Homo sapiens: one gene and its partners. The protein of the gene in region 3 purifies or fractionates together with the protein of the main gene of each other region. This does not show direct contact. Each region holds a gene or a part of one and is shown on either strand. Other genes may lie near its edges. The genes, in order: ERC1, MYO18B and MAP3K10.

Evidence for each region.
Region 1: the proteins of MAP3K10 (region 3) and ERC1 purify together in Homo sapiens (affinity purification with mass spectrometry; one large-scale study listed by BioGRID and IntAct). This does not show direct contact.
Region 2: the proteins of MAP3K10 (region 3) and MYO18B purify together in Homo sapiens (affinity purification with mass spectrometry; one large-scale study listed by BioGRID and IntAct). This does not show direct contact.

Annotation. Positions count from the first base shown.
Region 1 is NC_000012.12:1,025,698-1,029,348, forward strand, and holds part of ERC1 (ELKS/Rab6-interacting/CAST family member 1), read left to right. Parts: intron 1-2,050; 5' UTR 2,051-2,206; coding exon 2,207-2,875; intron 2,876-3,651. UniProt on the Homo sapiens protein: Regulatory subunit of the IKK complex. Probably recruits IkappaBalpha/NFKBIA to the complex. May be involved in the organization of the cytomatrix at the nerve terminals active zone (CAZ) which regulates neurotransmitter release.
Region 2 is NC_000022.11:25,843,163-25,846,813, reverse strand, and holds part of MYO18B (unconventional myosin-XVIIIb), read right to left. Parts: intron 3,080-3,651; coding exon 2,920-3,079; intron 715-2,919; coding exon 531-714; intron 1-530. UniProt on the Homo sapiens protein: May be involved in intracellular trafficking of the muscle cell when in the cytoplasm, whereas entering the nucleus, may be involved in the regulation of muscle specific genes.
Region 3 is NC_000019.10:40,204,803-40,208,453, forward strand, and holds part of MAP3K10 (mitogen-activated protein kinase kinase kinase 10), read left to right. Parts: intron 1-318; coding exon 319-494; intron 495-1,108; coding exon 1,109-1,355; intron 1,356-3,651. UniProt on the Homo sapiens protein: Activates the JUN N-terminal pathway.

The DNA of each region.
Region 1 (3,651 bases), on a different chromosome or scaffold from region 3:
TCATTTATTGAGTGATTTTTCATTTCCTCACTGTATTAGTCTGTTCTCATGTTGCTAATACAGACATACCCGAGACTAGGTAATTTAAAAAGGAAAGTTTTTTTTTTTTTTTTTTTTTGAGACGGAGTCTCGCTCTTGTCACCCAGGCTGGAGTGCAGTGGCGCGATCTCGGCTCACTGCAATGTCTGCCGCCTGGGTTCAAGCTTCTTATGCCTCAGCCTCCTGAGTGGCTGGGATTACAGGCACCTGCCACCATGCTTGGTTAATTTTTGTACTTTTAGTGAGATTGGGTTTTGCCGTGTTGGTCAGGCTGGTCTCGAACTCTTGATGTCAGGTGATCCACCCGCCTTGGTCTCCCAAATTGCTGGAATTACAGATGTAAGCCACTGCACCCTGCCAGGAAAGAGGTTTAATGGACTCTCAGTTCCACATGGCTGGGGAGACCTCACAATCATGGCAGAAGGCGAATGAGGAGCAAAATTATGTCTTACATGGCGACAGGCAAGAGAACTTGTGCAGGGGAACTCCAATTTATAAAACTATCAGATCCCATGAGACGCACTCACTACCACCAGAACAGTAGAGGGGAAACTGCGCCCATGATTCAGTTAAGTACACCTGGCCCCACCCTTGATACATGAAGATGATTGCAATTCAAGGTGAGATTTGAGTGGGGACACAGCCAAACCATATCACTCACTGTTTGGAAACGTTACTTTTAACATATATTAAATTCCCATATATAATTTAGACCCTGTTCTTGGGCTAGTACTATACAGTTTTCGTTATTATAGTTTTACAAGGCTACAATACTTTGTAAGAAACCTTGCAGGTCAGATGTGGTTTTGTTGTCAGGAATTTTTTCCAGTAATACTTAGTGGACATTATGTAGTATCCAGTAATCACACACATTGTTTTCTTAATGAAATATATGAAGTCACACTATGTGGGATACATATAAACAGTAAGTAAGCTCAGATCAGGTCAAGGTTTGCTGCTAGATGAGTTAAAAGGAAAATCTTATTTTCAGAGGTTTTTGGATTTTTGCAGTACAAATGAAGAATTATGGATTTGTAATTTATGTTGCTGTTGAGGGCTGTCTTCCTTCCTTGTTCATCTATTTTAAATTGTTTGGTTACTCTTGTATCTTTACTCTCCATTTGAATTTTAGAGTCAGCTTGTTGAGTTACTTGAAAAATCCTTCAACACCTGTGAAAGGAAGGGATCTATAGCTGGTTAGCAAAATCCTGTAGAGATTTTTCACTGGGATTGTGCTAAGTAGTTGGGGAAGAACTAAATCTTAGCAGTGTTTGTCTTCTCATCCATGAACACAGATAACTTTGTTTAGGTGTTCTTTCATGTCTTTCAGTAAAATGTTATAGTTTTTTTCCCCCAAAATTCTTGCACATTTCTGTTGATTTACATCAAAGTACTTTTATGGTTTTGTTGCTGTTGTGAATGGGATTTAAAATTTCCTTTAAATTAAAAACTGCATTTTCTAGTTGTTACTACTGATGTATACATTGATACTTATATATTGATATTGAGTTTGACCAGTTTGTTGAGTTCTGTTATTCTAATAACTTGTCAGTTGATTATCTTGGGTTTTCAGTTAGCAAGTCAGATATTCAGACATTGAGTTTAATCTTTTCCTTGTCAATCTTTATACTTCTTGTTTTTTTTTCTTTTTCTTTTTTGTAGACAGGGTCTTGCTATGTATCCCAGGTTGGTCTTGAACTCCTGGCCTCAAGCGATCTTCCTACCTTGGCCTCCCAGAGCGCTGGGATTATAGGCATGAGCCATTGCACTTGGCACTTTTTTTGTTTGTTTTCCAGTTGCATGGTATGTTTTCAGCGTTCAGTTTTGAGACATCTAAAATATCTCTAAAATATTGTTTACTATGAGTACATTATGCTGTAATCACATTCTGAATGCGTGAGTACATACATGGTAGAAGGGCTAGATCTTCTTTAAGTGGGGGTAATGGAAAGTCTCTGAGAAGGGAAATATTTATTATTGGAGGATTTAATGTGTGATCTTTTCATTACAGATATGGTGTAAGATACTTCTTCAAGATTGGACAGCTGGGGACCTTCTTCTGATTAACCTTAAACCAACTTGTAGCCATAGAGACACCTCACAAGGTTCCCATTTTTGTTGTTGTTGTTGTTGATTTTCTGCTCACACCTTTCCTGACCTTGCAACCATGTATGGAAGTGCCCGCTCTGTTGGGAAGGTGGAGCCGAGCAGCCAGAGCCCTGGGCGTTCACCCAGGCTTCCACGTTCCCCTCGCTTGGGTCACCGTCGAACCAACAGTACGGGAGGGAGTTCGGGAAGCAGTGTTGGAGGTGGCAGTGGGAAAACCCTTTCAATGGAAAATATACAATCTTTAAATGCTGCCTATGCCACCTCTGGCCCTATGTATCTAAGTGACCATGAAAATGTGGGTTCAGAAACACCTAAAAGCACCATGACACTTGGCCGTTCTGGGGGACGTCTGCCTTACGGTGTTCGGATGACTGCTATGGGTAGTAGCCCCAATATAGCTAGCAGTGGGGTTGCTAGTGACACCATAGCATTTGGAGAGCATCACCTCCCTCCTGTGAGTATGGCATCCACTGTACCTCACTCCCTTCGTCAGGCGAGAGATAACACAATCATGGATCTGCAGACACAGCTGAAGGAAGTATTAAGAGAAAATGATCTCTTGCGGAAGGATGTGGAAGTAAAGGAGAGCAAATTGAGTTCTTCAATGAATAGCATCAAGACCTTCTGGAGCCCAGAGCTGAAGAAGGAACGAGCCCTGAGAAAAGATGAAGCTTCCAAAATCACCATTTGGAAGGAACAGTACAGAGTTGTACAGGAGGAAAACCAGGTAAGTTCTACGTGTGTTTACCTTTATTGGCTGAATTCATGTATATAAATGAAATAGCCTTTTTTTCCCCTTTCCTAGATTTTTCCCTTCGTAGTATATGTATCTTCCTTTTTCCTATTGATTTTACTGTTTTGTGTCCTCCATTTCTCAGCCCTTTCCAAATTTGGTCCTGTACCCTGTTTTCTTCTAGCTGCCCATGTCTCCTTGCTCCCATTCTTGCTTGGTTCTTTTCTCTGGTTTCTCTTTCTCTTCGTGTCTTTCCTTTCAGCATATGTTATCTTTTTTTTTTTTTTCCAATTCTTCTGAGAGTATAATTTTGCCACACTCTCTAATATCTATTACCAAATGTATTTTAGAGTAGGTAACTTAAATGTAAGGTATACCATTAAGATTTGTCATAATGTCAAAAAGTCATTCTTAAAAACAAAACAAAATGACTATCACAGGATAAGTCAGTGTTGTCAGCTGAGAACAGAAATTACTTTTAAAAAGTTAATGTTGGCCGGGTGCAATGGCTCACACCTGTAATCCCAGCACTTGGGAGGCCGAGGTGGGCGGATCATTGAGGTCAGGAGTTCGAGACCAGCCTGGCGACGTGGTGAAACCCTGACTCTACTAAAAATACAAAAATTAGCCAGGTGTGATGGCGTGTGCCTGTAATCCCAGCTTCTAAGGAGGCTGAGGCAGGAGAATCACGTAAACCTGGGAGGCGGAGGTTGCAGTGAGCTGAGATCCCGCCACTGCACTCCAGTCTGGAGTGAGACTCTGTCTCAAAA
Region 2 (3,651 bases), on a different chromosome or scaffold from region 3:
CTCTGCGCCCGGCCACTATAAGGTTTATTTAAAGGTGTCCTTCCCTTGTCTCAGCCCATTCTCATTTCTGCTCAGCCTGGCCATTGACCAATCTCATGTTCTCATTTATTCACGGATTCACATTCCAGGTCTAGGTACCACATTTACATCCAGCTGGGTCCTGCCGCCTTGCCCCAGGGGAACCTAGTGGTGAGCAAGGCAGACAGGGCTAGTCTGGCTCTCATATGTGTCACTGGAGTCAAGAGGGCATTCATAGCTTCTGGGAACTCCCCCAGGCCTCTCAACTCAACACCAAGCAGCACAGGCTTAGGCCTCAGATTTGGATCAGTCACTTCCTGGGGGTGTGACCAGGGCCAAGTTTCATTGCTGCTGGGAGCCCCCATTTCCTCCTCTGTGGAGCGTGGGGTGACACTCGCCCCTCTGGCCTTGCTGGGGAGGTTAGAGATGATGTAGGCACATGACTCAGCCCAGAGGAGATGAGGATGGAGGCAGTGAAGGCCAGGACACCATGAGACAGGGTGCCCACTCACCATCTGCAGCTTGATCTGGGAGCACGGGGCTTTCCTCCTCACCGCGGCAAGGCTGCTGGCAAAGGTCCTCCTCACCATGCGGCTCCTCTGCAGGGCCTGCTGGGAGGTGCCCTCCAGGCCTGCCACAGCCCGGCACACAGGAGGCAGCTTGGCCCGGGCCTGGAATAGACTCCGCAGCTCCTCTCTGGTGGGGAGGAGGGAAAAGAGAGAGGAGCTTTAGGAGGTTCTTGGGAAAGCCTTGGCCTGGGTGGTGGCAAAGGGAACAAGCCTTCTTGCTTCCTGCTCCTCGGCTTCCTAAAGCCTCCTCTACAGTCATGTGTCCCAGCTGCTCCCCTTCATTCACAGCCCCTCCTGCCAGGTGAGGCTTTGCTTCATGGCAAATGCCAGCTCCTTCCTGATGCCCGTCTTCTACCTTCAAATGCTCCCTCCCTGCCTAGGCTTAGAGCATCTGTCCTATGGATATTCTTGTCACTTACATACCTACAGCAATGCTACGACACCTGTACTCTCTTAGAGGTCAAAGTCCTCTCTGCTATTCCTAGACCAGGCCTAGCACACAGTAGGCACGTGCCATGTGTTTCATGCAAGAAGGAATGACTCAGGCTGGGCACACAGTTTCTGGAGCTGCAAGATAATGTCAAATAAATACCCAGCCTGATACCTGAGCAGACAGTGCCTTCTCTCAGCATCCCTGTCATGGACAGATTCTGAGGTTAGTGGCCAGGATGCTAGCTTTTCGTTTTTGTTGTTGTTGTTGTTGGTTTTTTTGAGATGGAGTCTTGCTCTGTCGCCAGGCTGGAGTGCAGCGGTGCAATCTCGGCTTACTGCAACCTCCGCCTCCCGGGTTCAAGCGATTCTCCTGCTTCAGCCTCCCGAGTAGCTGGGACTATAGGCACACGCCACCAGGCCCAGCTAATTTTTGTGTTTTTAGTAGAGACAGGGTTTCACCATGTTGGCCAGGATGGTCTCGATCTCTTGACCTCGTGATCTGCCCACCTTGGCCTCCCAAAGTGCCAGGATTACAGGCGTGAGCCACCGCGCCCGGCCAAGGGTGCCAGCTTTTCAAGTGTCTGTTCCAGTAAAGCAGAGTGGCCTACCCTCTTCCATGAGCCAACTACGAACCGGGCTCTCTAATAGGTCATCTGCTACTTTACGTCACCAAAGCCTTCTTAGATCAGACATGGGAGCTTTGGAACCTCATTCCCATTTCTCAGATTATGAAACTGAGGTCCAGGTCATGTAGCTTAAAAGAGGGAAAAACGGAATCTGAACATCTTCCTGTCCCCAAAGCTGGGCTACAGCCGCTGAGTCTTGTAGCATCGTCCTGCTCTTATTTATGGTACAGGAAGCAGAAACAACCGAGATGAGGGAGAGCGACTGCCCACGGTCACTCAGGTGACAAAGGGCAGGGCTGAGACTCAACCTGTGCCACCTGGGTCATCATTCAGTCCTCTGTGTGCTCGCAACTCCTGTTGCCCCAGCCCTGGCCTGAATCTCTCTCCAGGAGCTGGATGTTCACGAGCCCCACTCCTGGATGTGGGTTTCCAATCAGCTCTGACATAATGTTCTGGGAATTCTCCAAGCATCTCTTAGACTCAAGTTGGGTCCTGGCTGTGCCACTGTTCTGCTGTGTGAGCAAAGGCAAGCCACTTCACTGCTCGGGGCCTCAATTTTTCTCATGTGTAAAATGGGACTAAGGATCTTGTGTTGTGATAAGGATTCAGAAGATACTCATAAAGCGTTTATGCTGATCCAAGGCACATAGGGAGTAGTGAGTAAGTGGTTCTTTCTCATCCTGGTGCCCATCTGAGACACCAGCACCTCCCTGGTCGTCTCAGTTTCTCTTCTTGTCTCTAAGCTCTACCCCTGAGGAATTCCAGCATTGAACTTGGGAGTGTGCATGCACACACACACACACAGCATTTTCCAATAAGCCTCTGAACTAAAAGCAGAGAATGCTGCCGGCCTCACGCCAGCACTCTGGGCTGAGCAGCCAGGGAACATGGTGAGCTTTTTTTTAACGCTACAAAACGTATCATTTCAGTTTTATGAACCCCTAGTTCTTGAATGTCCATAAAAGTTGTTCCAGTCACATCATCTCTCAGATACTTAATGAAAGGCAAAGTGCCAAAATAAGAAGTCACAGCTTTTTAGCTTTTGTTCCACCTCCCCAGGAGGCCAGCTTTTCTCCTCAGCTGGATTCACTCTGGCCCCAGGGAGACACTGCACTGCTCCAATTCAAGTTATGGTTCTTTGCTCCATTATGGAGGGATGGGATTCCTGGGCTGGCCCTCCCACACTGTGTTGTAGTGACTGCCTAGTTTAGGTGGGAAGGAAAACACAGTGCCTCCAATGCTCCATCCCCGTCCCCAACCCTGACCCAACTCACCTTTTTGACTGGTGCAGGACCTGGGGTGCATCCAGGGCCGAGAGGTTGGGCTTGGCTCTGTGGAGCCAGCCCGTGAGGTCGTACCGCACAGGGTCCCATCCCAACTGGTGGAAAATCTCACACTGGAGGGGCTGCTCACAGGTCCGCAGGGCAGAGGACCCTGGAAACAGACATGGTGGCATGAGTGCTGGAGCCTGTTGAGGACACTCTGCAATCAGCTGGCATCCCTTAAACGCACAGTATCCATCTTAACGTGTTTCCAGATAGCTAACGCTCATGGTCGAAGGCACCCACATTTCTCCTGCTGTAGTGAATTTGTGTACATTATTTCCAAAGTGGATTTTATTCTTTCTTGCTTTCTTAAATCTAGGACACCTGTTTTTCCCAAACATCATCCGTACACTCGATCTCCTCGAGTTTTTCTATATATATAACCACGTATCACCTGGACTGTGATTTACTTGATGTTTTCTTTAAATCGACTTACATTTTCACAAGTACAGTACATTCATTTTAAAAGAAGCATCATATTGCCGATTTGATGTGCAAGATATGTTTATTTTCTGATATGCATGGAAATTATGATGAAATATTTTTAAAATATTTAGTTTTATGCCGCGTAAAATCATTTTGAATACCATCAACCAAATAAATACAGGGAATACTTTTGGGAGATACAGGCACATCGGTTCCAAGAGACAGGGTGGGAGAAAAAAATGGGCCTGATCTTGG
Region 3 (3,651 bases):
CACATCCCAGCCCTTGTTTGGGCCAGGCCCAGAGCTCTCAGGACAACCTGTTAGGATTCCTTGGCCCTGGGATTCCACCTTGATCCTGATTCCACTACCAGCCCCTCCTCGGGGTGCAGGTCCCAGGGTTTCTCTCCCAGCGTTTCACTGAGTGGAATTGGCCAGGAGCTTGGCTTTGAATCCCTTCCCCTCAGCTCCATAGCAGCTGTTTGTCTGCCATCCCCAGAAATTCTGCCTTCCTCTGAGCAGGCTGAGTCCCCAGAGCATGACCACTGACACCTCCATGCCCCACCACTGTCCTTCCTCCTCCCACCCCAGAATGCTGGGACCCAGACCCCCACGGGCGGCCAGATTTCGGTAGCATCTTGAAGCGGCTTGAAGTCATCGAACAGTCAGCCCTGTTCCAGATGCCACTGGAGTCCTTCCACTCGCTGCAGGAAGACTGGAAGCTGGAGATTCAGCACATGTTTGATGACCTTCGGACCAAGGAGAAGGTGAAGGCAGGGGGCAAGGTGGGAAAGATGGAGCAAGACCCCTGAGTTCTGATGCCTTGGGCTGCTCAGAGACTCCTCCCCTGAACCCCAGCCTTTGGGTCCATGCAGGGTCAAGGGAGCCTTTTTTGCATATTAAGAAAAGACAGCCTCCTGTTGGTGGATTAATAAGAAAAAGGCACCCTGTACTGAAGTACTTACAGGTGACACTGCATGATGTCTGGGGTTGGCTTTAAAATACTACAGCAGAAACGAAGAGAGGGCAAGAGGAGAGAAGGACGGGGATACAAGATTCGCAAAGCATAGGTAATTGTTGAAATTGGATGATGGGTACAGGGGGGTGCACTGTTCTCTGCTTTTGTGGATGTTTGAAGTTTTCTAAATTGAAGAGTTAAGAAAGAAAAAGAAAGAAAAAGCACCCCTTTCTTTGAGCTAACACAGTTCCCTGCCCTGGCACCCAGCTTGGCTAGCAAAGCATGAGTCGGGTGGTGAAACCAGTGTACCCCACAGCAAGGTACCCTTGTGTGAGGCACCAACCAGACGCAGCAGCCCTGGGTCCCTCCCCAGGAAGCAGAGCAGCTAAGCCCCTCCCCCCAGCCACCGCCTCTCCTTCCCAGGAGCTTCGGAGCCGTGAGGAGGAGCTGCTGCGGGCGGCACAGGAGCAGCGCTTCCAGGAGGAGCAGCTGCGGCGGCGGGAGCAGGAGCTGGCAGAACGTGAGATGGACATCGTGGAACGGGAGCTGCACCTGCTCATGTGCCAGCTGAGCCAGGAGAAGCCCCGGGTCCGCAAGCGCAAGGGCAACTTCAAGCGCAGCCGCCTGCTCAAGCTGCGGGAAGGCGGCAGCCACATCAGCCTGCCCTCTGGTACCCACCCGTGTCCCCAGAGCGCCCCCCAAGAGGCTGCTGGGAGCAGCCCCGACCTAGGATTTATCTCTTCCTTTTCTTTTTCAACTTGTTTTTATTGCTAAATATATCGCACATAGTCAGTGATCAGCCCAGTGCAGTGGCGAGCACTTGTAGTCCCAGCCTACTCAGGAGGCCAAGGTGGGAGGATCACTTGAGGCCAGAAGTTTGAGACCAGCCTGGGCAACATAGACCCCATATTTACCAAAAAAAAAAAAAATTTTTTTTAATTAGCTGGCCACGTTGGCATGCACTTATAGTCCAAGCTAGTGGGGAGGCTGAGGTGGGAGGATCACTTGAGTCCAGGAGTTCGAGGCTGCAGTGAGCTGTAATTGCACCACTGCACTCCAGTCTGGGCAGCAGAGCAAGACCCTATCTCTAAAGGGAAGAAGAAGAAAAAAAGAAAATGACCAAAAACCTGTACAGCCAAATGAGTTACTCTAGTCACCCCCATGAAAGCAGAGAGAACCTCACAGCCATCCCAAGTGCTTTCTACCTGCCCCTCCAGACAACCTCACACCATCCCCTGAGAGGAACATCTGTCTTGACACTTAGGACAGTCACTTCTGAACTTTCTTTTTCATGTTATCTCTCTTTAAAAATATCTTTTAATCTGGCCAGGTGCAGTGGCTCACGCCTGTAATCCCAGCATTTTGGGAGGCCAAAGTGCGTAGATCACTTGAGGCTAGGAGTTCTAGAGCAGCCTGGCTCTAGAACATGGTGAAATCCCGCCTCTACTAAAACTACAAAATTAGCTGGGTGTGGTGGTGCACACGCCTGTAATCTCAGTTACTTGGGAGGCTGAGGCACAAGCATCGCTTGAACCCGGAAAGCAGAGGTTGCAGTGAGCCGAGATTGTGCCACTGCACTCCAGCCTGGGTGACAGAGTGAGACTCTGTCACAAAATATATAATTAAGATATACATATATATGCTGATATTTGACCATTTTTTTACCTACAAAAACAGAAGTTTCACATGGATCAACCTAATAGTTGGATCTCAAGACTTAATCAGATTCAGATTCAGGTTTGATTTTTTTTTTCCCCACACTGCTTCCCAGGTAATGCATTCAGGAGGGAGGCACGTAGTGTCTACTTGTCTCTTTCTGTGATGTTACAAGCCAGAAAGCAGTGCCTTAAGCAGCAGTGGCCAGTGGAAATATAATACAAGCCACGTGTATAATTTTAAATTTTCTAGTAAGCTACACATAAAAGCAAAAAGAAATAAGAGATGTCAATTTTAATATTTTTTATTAGGCCAGGTGGGGTGGCTCACGTCTGTAATCCCAGCACTTTTTGGGGCTAAGACGGGCAGATCACCTGAGGTCAGGAGTTTGAGACCAGCCTGACCAACATGGAGAAACCCCATCTCTACTAAAACTACAAAATTAGCCGGGCGTGGTGGCGCATGCCTGTAATCCCAGCTACTCAGGAGGCTGAGGCAGGAGAATCGCTTGAACCTGGGAGGCAGAGGTTGCAGTGAGCCGAGATCGCGCCATTGTACTCCAGCCTGGGCGACAAGAGCAAAACTCCATCTCAAAAAATATATATATTTTTTAATTTAGCCCAATATATCCATGCAATCAATACAAAATAATTGTGAGATATTTTACCTTCTTTTTTCACACTAAATCTTTGAAATCCAGATGTATTTTATATTTATGGCACATCTAAATTTGGACAGTAAATTTTCATTAAAAATTTTTTTTTTTCTGAGATGGGGTCTTGCTATATTGCCCAGGGTGGTCTTGAACTCCTGCGCTCAGGCAGCGCTCCCACTTTGGCCTCCCAAAGTGCTGGGATTACAGGTGTGAGCTACTGTACCTGACCCATCAAAAATATTGGATCTGTATTTAGATTTCATAAAAGTTAGAGTTGAAAAAGTACATATACATACCCAAGTTGCTCCAAACATGCTTAAATGTTTCCAATAACCAAATGGAGTACCTGTTTTTTGTTGTTTGTTTTTTTGTTTTTGTTTTTGTTTTTTTTGAGATGGAGCCTCGCTCTGTCACCCAGGCTGGAGTGCAGTGGCATGATCTCGGCTCACTGCAAGCTCTGCCTCCCAGGTTCATGCCATTCTCCTGCCTCAGCCTCCTGAATAGCTGGGACTACAGGCACCCGCCACCACGCCTGGCTCTTTCTTTCTTTTTTTTTTTTTTTTTTTTTTTTGTATTTTTAGTAGAGACAGGGTTTCACCGTGTTAGCCAGGATGGTCTCAATCTCCTGACCTCGTGATCCGCCTGCCTCGGCCTC